Linked DNA regions of Homo sapiens. The protein of the gene in region 2 purifies or fractionates together with the protein of the main gene of each other region. This does not show direct contact. Each region holds a gene or a part of one and is shown on either strand. Other genes may lie near its edges.

What was found.
Region 1: the proteins of DDX11 (region 2) and RFC2 purify together in Homo sapiens (affinity purification with western blotting, with the first as the bait; one study listed by BioGRID). This does not show direct contact.

What each region holds. Positions count from the first base shown.
Region 1 is NC_000007.14:74,247,872-74,251,681, reverse strand, and holds part of RFC2 (replication factor C subunit 2), read left to right. Parts: intron 1-1,901; coding exon 1,902-1,943; intron 1,944-2,461; exon of another isoform or gene 2,462-2,563; coding exon 2,564-2,670; intron 2,671-3,810.
Region 2 is NC_000012.12:31,090,591-31,094,400, forward strand, and holds part of DDX11 (ATP-dependent DNA helicase DDX11), read left to right. Parts: intron 1-1,128; coding exon 1,129-1,281; intron 1,282-2,255; coding exon 2,256-2,302; intron 2,303-2,654; coding exon 2,655-2,734; intron 2,735-3,810. UniProt on the Homo sapiens protein: DNA-dependent ATPase and ATP-dependent DNA helicase that participates in various functions in genomic stability, including DNA replication, DNA repair and heterochromatin organization as well as in ribosomal RNA synthesis.

The DNA.
Region 1 (3,810 bases), on a different chromosome or scaffold from region 2:
GGACTACAGGCACACGCCACCACGCCTGGCTAATTTTTTTATTTTTAGTAGAGATGGGGTTTCACCGTGTTGGCCAGGCTGGTCTTGAACTCCTGACCTCGTGATCCGCCTGCCTCGGCCTCCCAAAGTGCTGGGATTACAGGCGTGAGCCACCACGAGCGGCCTTGAGTAGGTTTTTAAAAGATGACCTAAGGCTGGGCACAGTGGCTTACACCTGTAATCCCAGCACCTTGGGAGGCTAAGGCGGGCAGATTACTTGAGGCCAGGTGTTTGAGATCAGCCTGGGCAATGTGGTGAAACCAGTCTCTACGAAAAAATTTAAGAATGAGCTGGGTGTGGTGGCACATGCCTGTAGAGTCTGAGGTTCAAACTGGGCATGGTGACAAGTGCCTGTAATCCCAGCTACTCGAGGCCAAGGCAGGAGGATCCCTTGAGCCCAGGAGTTTGACGCTGCAGTGAGCTATGATCACGCCACTGCACTCTAGCCTAGGTGACAGAGTGGACACCCTTACTTTGAGAAACAAAAAGAGTTTGGGCTTCATAGTGAGGGCAGGGAGGAGTCAAGGATTTCAGTTAGGGAAAAATGTTTTAATAGGGCCGGGTGTGGTGGCTCACACCTGTAATCCCAGCACTTTGGGAGGCCAAGGCGAGTGGATCACCTAAGGTCAGGAGTTCACGACCAGCCTGGCCAACATGGCAAAACCCCGTCTCTACTAAAAATAAAAATTAGGCAGGCATGGTGGTGGGCGTCTGTAATCCCAGCTACTCAGGAGGCTGAGGCAGGAGAATCGCTTGAACCCGGGAGGCGGAGGTTGCAGTGAGCCGAGATTGTGCCATTGTACTCCAGCCTGGGCAACAAGAGCAAAGCTCCATCTCAAAAAAAAAAATGTTTTAATAGGTGTGTACTTTAGGAAAGTGGTCGTGGTTACAGGATGGGAAATGGATTTGAATGGGAGCATGGAGACCACTTAATGGCCCATTGATAGCAATCAGACGAGATAATGGGCTTAAGAAAGTGGTAGCCGGGATGGAGAGAAGGGATGGAGAGAAGTAAAGGACGCTGGAGACGAAGGAGGAGGATGGTGAAGCCCTGGTTATTGAAGTACTCAGGGTGAGGATGAGGCCAAACCAAGATGATGGCAACCTCAACTTCATGGCATAGACAGTCCATGGTGGGAAACATGGGTGGGGCCTCAGGTTTGTACAGGAGAATGAAGTGTTCAGTTTTGAAGATGCCGAGGTGAGTACCTGTAGTCCCAGCTACTCGGGAGGCCAAAGCAGGAGGATCACTTGAGCCTGGGAATTGGAGGCTGCGGTGAGCCTTGATCACACCACTGCACTCCAGCCTGGGTGACAGCCAGAGTGCATCTCTAAAAGAATAAAAAGAACTTGAGGTGAGAGTTCCATGGGGCATCCAGTCCATGTGGATAAATTTGTAGCCACGTTTACTACACAGGCTGTGTAGCTGGGGAGATTCAGCTCCTAAAGCTTACAAATTAACCAGGTTTTGTGTTTTTTTTTTTTTGTTTTTGAGACAGGGTCCCACTCTTTCCCAGGCTGGAGTGCAGTGGTGCAGTCACAGCTCACTGCGGCCTCCACTTCTCAGGCTCAACCGATCCTCCCATTTTAGCCTCCCGAGTAGCTGGGAGTACAGGAGCACACCACCACACCTGGCTAATTTTGTTTATTTTTTGAGGAGACAGAGTCTCACTGTGTTGCCCAGGCTGGCCTCAGGCCTCAAGTGATTGTCCTGCCTTGGCCTCCCAAACTGCTAGGATTACAGGCCTGAGCCATTGTGCTCAGCCGAGTTTTAACCTGCTTGTTTGTTCTTTTTTCTATCTTTTTTATGTAGTCATCCAGAAGCAAGTTTTAACCGGTTTTAATGATCATTTTCGCCGTAGGTCTTTGCAAGGGAAGGAAATGTGCCCAACATCATCATTGCGGTGAGTACCCAGCCCTGGGCCTGTTGAGTGTCTCCATGTCTCATCCCACTGTCCGCTGAACTGCTTTCTTGTGCACAGCGCTGCCTCCCTGGAGAGCCCCTTCCCATTCCCCCGGCAAAGGGAAGTGTTTCACTCTAGTTGGGAGGCCTGGGGTTGGTTGCTGTATTTTTTTTTATTTATTTATTTATTTTTTTTTCTGAAACGGAGTCTCACTCTGTCACCCAGGCTAGAGTGCAGTGGTGCAATCTCTGCTCACCGCAACCTCTCCCTCCCAGGTTCAAGCGATTCTTGTACCTCAGCCTCCCGACTAGCTGGGATTACAGGTGCCTGCCATCACGCCCAGCTAAGTTTTGTATTTTTAGTAGAGACGGGGTTTCGCCATGTTGGCCAGTCTGGTCTTGAACTCCTGACCTCAGGTGATCTGCCCGCCTTGGCCTCCCAAAGTGCTGGGATTATAGGTGTGAGCCACTGTCTCCGGCCAGCTGTATTGATCTGTGTGTGCTGTGGGTGGAATGCAGGGGTCAGAGGTGACGGAGATGCAAACAGCAGTGAACATAACTCAAGAGCTACCTGAGGTCCTTCTGGTGGTTTGAAGTCTTTACTGGAGATCTCATTCCCAGGGCCCTCCAGGAACCGGCAAGACCACAAGCATTCTGTGCTTGGCCCGGGCCCTGCTGGGCCCAGCACTCAAAGATGCCATGTTGGAACTCAATGCTTCAAATGACAGGTAGGTCTTAGAGTCAGACCTGTAGGGGGGCGGGTGCTCTGCATTGAGAATTGTTACAGAAACAACCTTTCTCAGCATTGGGTTGTATGCGAAGCCTTGCCAGCTATGTGATTTCCTCCACCCCTTCCCAGTGAAAGAGCGTTGCTCACTTGTCAACTTGCCGGTTTATTTTTTTTGTTTTCATGGAAATTTTCAAAAACTGTTCTTCTCAGCCAGGCATGGTGGCTCACACCTGTAATTCCAGCACTTTGGGAGGCCGAGGCAGGTAGATCACCTGAGGTCAGGAATTCGAGACCATCCTAGCCAACATGGTGAAACCCCGTCTCCACTAAAAATACAAAACTTAGCTGGGCGTGGTGCTGGGTGCCTGTAATCCCAGCTACTCAGGAGGTTGAGGCAGGAGGATTGCTTGAACCCAGGAGAAGGAGGTTACAGTGAGCTGAGATCGCACCGTTGAGCACTCCAGCCTGGGTGACGAGCAAAACTCCATCTCCAAAAAAAAAAAACCAACTAGTTTTTCTCTTTTTTCAAGTTTAAAAATTTTTGTAGAGATGGGATCTCACTATGTTGCCCAGGCTGATCTCAAACCCTTAGCCTCAAGCAATCCTCCTGCCTTGGCCTGCTAAGTTGCTAGGACTATAGACACATGCCACCATGCCAGCTTTTTCTTGTGGAGACGGGATCTCACTATGTTGCCCAGTCTGGTCTCGAACTCCGGGACTCAAGCGATCCTCCTTGCATCAGCCTCCCAAAGTGCTTGGATTACAGACGTGAGCCACTACACTGGGATGTTCAACCAGTAAATATAATGCAAAATTCCAAAATGTGAAAAAAAAACCCAGATCTGAAATATTTCTGGTCCCAAGCATTAGGGATAAGGGATACTCAGCCTGTATATTTAAAGTGTATGGAAGGCCGGCCAGGCATGGTGGTTCATGCCTATAATCCCAGCACTTTGGGAGGCTGAGGCAGGTGGATCGCTTGAGTCCAGGAGTTTGAGACCAGCCTAGGTGACATAATGAAACCCCATCTCTGTATAAAAGTAAAAATAAAGTGTTCTGGAGGATGTGTATAAGTTAATATGCAAATACTATACCATTTCATATAAGGGACTTGAGCAAAAGTGAATTTTGGTGTCTG
Region 2 (3,810 bases):
TTCTCTTGATTTTTAAACAGAAGGAAGAACTGCTAATGTAGCAGATCAAAAGTAGTATCTCACTGTTATTTGGTGGGTGCAGTTTCACTATTTCCTTGCTACTTCTTTAATTTGAGTGACTTTGGAAACGGGATATCACTAGTGGAAAATTCTGTATAATCCAGAAAAAAATGTAAGGTTTTAAAAGATTCAGGGAACTAAGTAACCATTTGCACAGCAGCTAAATGCTCACCAGCATACCTGCTGAGCTGTGTGGGCACTGGCAGAGAAACTGAGGAAAGCTGCCAGGCCCCATGGTGTCCCAGGCCTTCCCTCCCGTCTGTTTGCCTTTAGAGCAAGATTAGTGCTATAGGCATTTATACACAAATACCATAATATGGCCCAAAATCTTTACAATTTTTGAATTTTTAAAGTACTTTGACCATATTTTGCTTTTATGTTAATAGTATTCCAGTGAAATTCTGTGCATGGGGACACTGGAGCCCAGAAAAGTTAAGTGACTCATATTTTCTCACCAAGCGTGGGTGATGGAGCCATTCAGTTTTCCGATATTTTATTTTTTATATGAGTATTCCTTTAACTGGAAACTTTCCTAACAACAAACACCTAAAGATGTGCAGAGTTGCTTTTATTTTTGTTACCCCAGCTCCACGCCTTAACCCTCACTTTGAAATAGGATGTATCAACCCTATTTTGCAGATGAGGAAAGCAAGAGTCAGAGAGGTTAGACAACTCTTCCAGAGTCACACAGCTGGGGAGTAGCAGCTCCAGGAGTAGAAGCTGGGGCCGCTTCCTGGTGCACCGATGGTCTGCAGGTGTTTGTGGAAACTCGGGGGCCTCCGGGGCGACCTTGAGGACATGGACAAGGCTAAGCAGGGGTTCCCTTCACCCAGCCCTGCCCTTGGTTTACTCAGGAGTCAGACCAGCCCTAGTTTCCTGTGTTTCATGTATTGGCTTTTCATGTGAAACTCGAGGAGAGCTTGTCCGTTGCCACAAGCTGTTTTTCGAATGTCTCTACACAGTCCAGGCAGGAAATAGAAGCACTCACATCAGGAGCTCAGTGTCAGGCAGGCAAGGCTCCTGCAGGGGAGCCCCGCCCTGCTCAGGTGGCCTCATCTCCCCTCCCAGCTGGTGGTGCTGCCCTATCAGATGCTGCTGCATGCGGCCACTCGGCAGGCCGCGGGCATCCGGCTGCAGGACCAGGTGGTGATCATCGACGAGGCGCACAACCTGATCGACACCATCACGGGCATGCACAGCGTGGAGGTCAGCGGCTCCCAGGTGTGTGGGCCTCCCCTCCCCGGGCCAGGGCCTGCTGTGACGTAAAGGGACTTGGATGGTTCCTCCAGACACCTGGGCCAAGAGTTCCTCCGGAGGTGGGGCTTGATAGAGGGTGCACGAGTCAAGGCGGTGACCTCATCGGAGGCTGACCATGGCTTTCCAGTGCATCGGGGGACCCCGCTATGACAGAGTGCCTCATTTCCCTGCACCTCATCTGCCCCCATGCTCCTGAGTCCCTCCAGCCCTGGATGCCAGCAGCCAGTTCTGTAAGCCAGGGAGATGGCATGTGTGAGGCAGAAGTCCCCTCAGGATTGGATTTTGTCATTACTGAAGTTGTCTGGAGGGGACTGAATTGAGGAATGCTCAAGATCAGCGCAGGCTCCTCCTGCTGCCCTATCATGCGCCATGCATGGCACCAGGTGTCTCTGGTCTTCACGCTGACTCTGCCATGGGTGTGGTGTTCCTGTTTTACATTGGAAACTTGGAGATTCAAAGATGGTCAAGCTCTGTCCTGAGGTCATGCAGCTCATGAGTGTGGAGCTGGGGTGTGCCCACTGGTTTCTGACTGTGAAAACCCCCACGACATCCCACCAGCTCTACTGACCTGTGCCTGGGCTGAATTGAGGCTGGGATGTGATGGTGGCCTTGAACCATCACTCTTTGTAGACTCCAGGTCTTTTCCCAACCCGGTGGAAACTTAGCAGGGAGATTCCATACTTGAGGAATTCAGCCTCTTGCTTTTTCTCTGACCCACAGTGGACACTGGAGGAAAACTTCCCTTCCTTCCCTTTTCTCTTAGCTCCCACCAGCCTAAGGGCTGTGGAAACCCGTACCTTTTGTCTGCAGCCAGCCCCCTCTCCTCCCTTTGGTGGCTTCCTGTGTGTCCAGGGCCAGCATCTTCTAGGTGAATCTAAGATGTCAGTACCTTAGCCCTCAGCTGCTTGCTCAGAGCCTGGTTTGTGTTCTTTCCCCAGCTCTGCCAGGCCCATTCCCAGCTGCTGCAGTACGTGGAGCGATACGGGTGAGATGTGACCCTCTGAGGTAGTGGGACAGTCCCTTGGTGGCCCCCTGCGTGGGCCTCTGAGAGGCAGGCAGCACTTTGGTTCCCACCTCTGGCCCGGGCTGTGGCGGGGTGGAGCTGCATGCCATTCATGTCCTAGGCACATCATGGTGTGTGCTGCACACAGACCTGGAAGGCTGGGGACTGACCGCTGGCTCTGAGGCCTGGGGCCGTGGCCAGCCTGCTCTCTGGGAAAGGATTTGTAGCTTGTGACCCAGTTTGAGAGGCACCGGGCAGCAAGGCTTCCACTGGGGTGGGCGGGGCGAGTCGCCATCAGGGCACCACCACTTAATGTCCGTTGGCTTCTTCTCAGGAAGCGTTTGAAGGCCAAGAACCTGATGTACCTGAAGCAGATCCTGTATTTGCTGGAGAAATTCGTGGCTGTGCTAGGGGGTGAGAGCCTCGTCCCCCTGCTGACCCCGGGCCTGCAAAACTCGCTGGGCTGCTTTTTCCTTGGATGCCCATCAGGACACCTCAGTTCTCTGTGTTTTTAAGAAGGGTCGGCCGGGTGCGGTGGCTCACGCCTGTAATCCCAGCACTTGGGAGGCCGAGGCAGGTGGTTCACCTGAGGTTAGGAGTTTTGAGACCAGCCTGGCCAACATGGTGAAATCCCATCTCTACTAAAAATACAAAAAAATTAGCTGGGAGTGTTGCCGTGGCCTGTAGTCCCAGCTGCTCCAGAGGCTGAGACAAGAGAATTGCTTGCTCAAACCCGGGAGGCGGAGGTTGCAGTGAGCCGAGATTGTGCCACTGCAGTCCAGTCTGGGCGACAGAGTGAGAATCAGTCTCAAAAAAAAAAAAAAAAAAAAAAAAGAAGGGTCTTGGTCATTGATTTAGAAAATTCTTGTTCTTTGTAGCTTAGTTGAGTTGTCTGACTTGAGCTTTATTTAGACCCATGGGTTCTTTGCCCATGTTCTGAGGACTTTTTATTTCAGGCCCTGCTCTGGGGGGATATTAAGGATACAGCATCACATAGACACACGGTGTTTCCGTGATAGGCATAGTTCTGTGGGTTGTTCGAAGCACTTGCATATGCGGTTTTGTGTGCCCTGTGAGAACGCAGTGCTGGTATTTGAATCCTTGTTGATAGACGCATAAACTAGAGCTCGGAGCAAGGGCTGCTCCCAGCACGGGAGCCTGGGATCTTCTGACTCCAGCTCCCACGCCTCTTTGCATGACCCTGTCACGTCCCCTTCTTTTATGATGGGGCACCCCCTTGGAAGGCGTCTGTGGAAGTGGAAGCTGCAGAAAGCCTGTGGGAGCTCCTGGCGGGAGCTGGTCTCGTGTTGCTGCTCTGAGCCACCAGCTCTGCTTTGCCTCAGGCTCACCAGTGGCCTGGGCAGCTCCTCTGTGCTCCGGTGCCCTGCATACCTTGGTCTGGCTGCTGTGTCCCGGCCTCCTGGAGAAGGGGTGAAAAACATGAACTTACAGGGCTTTGGGTTCCACGTGCAAGCACGTGAGTCAGACAT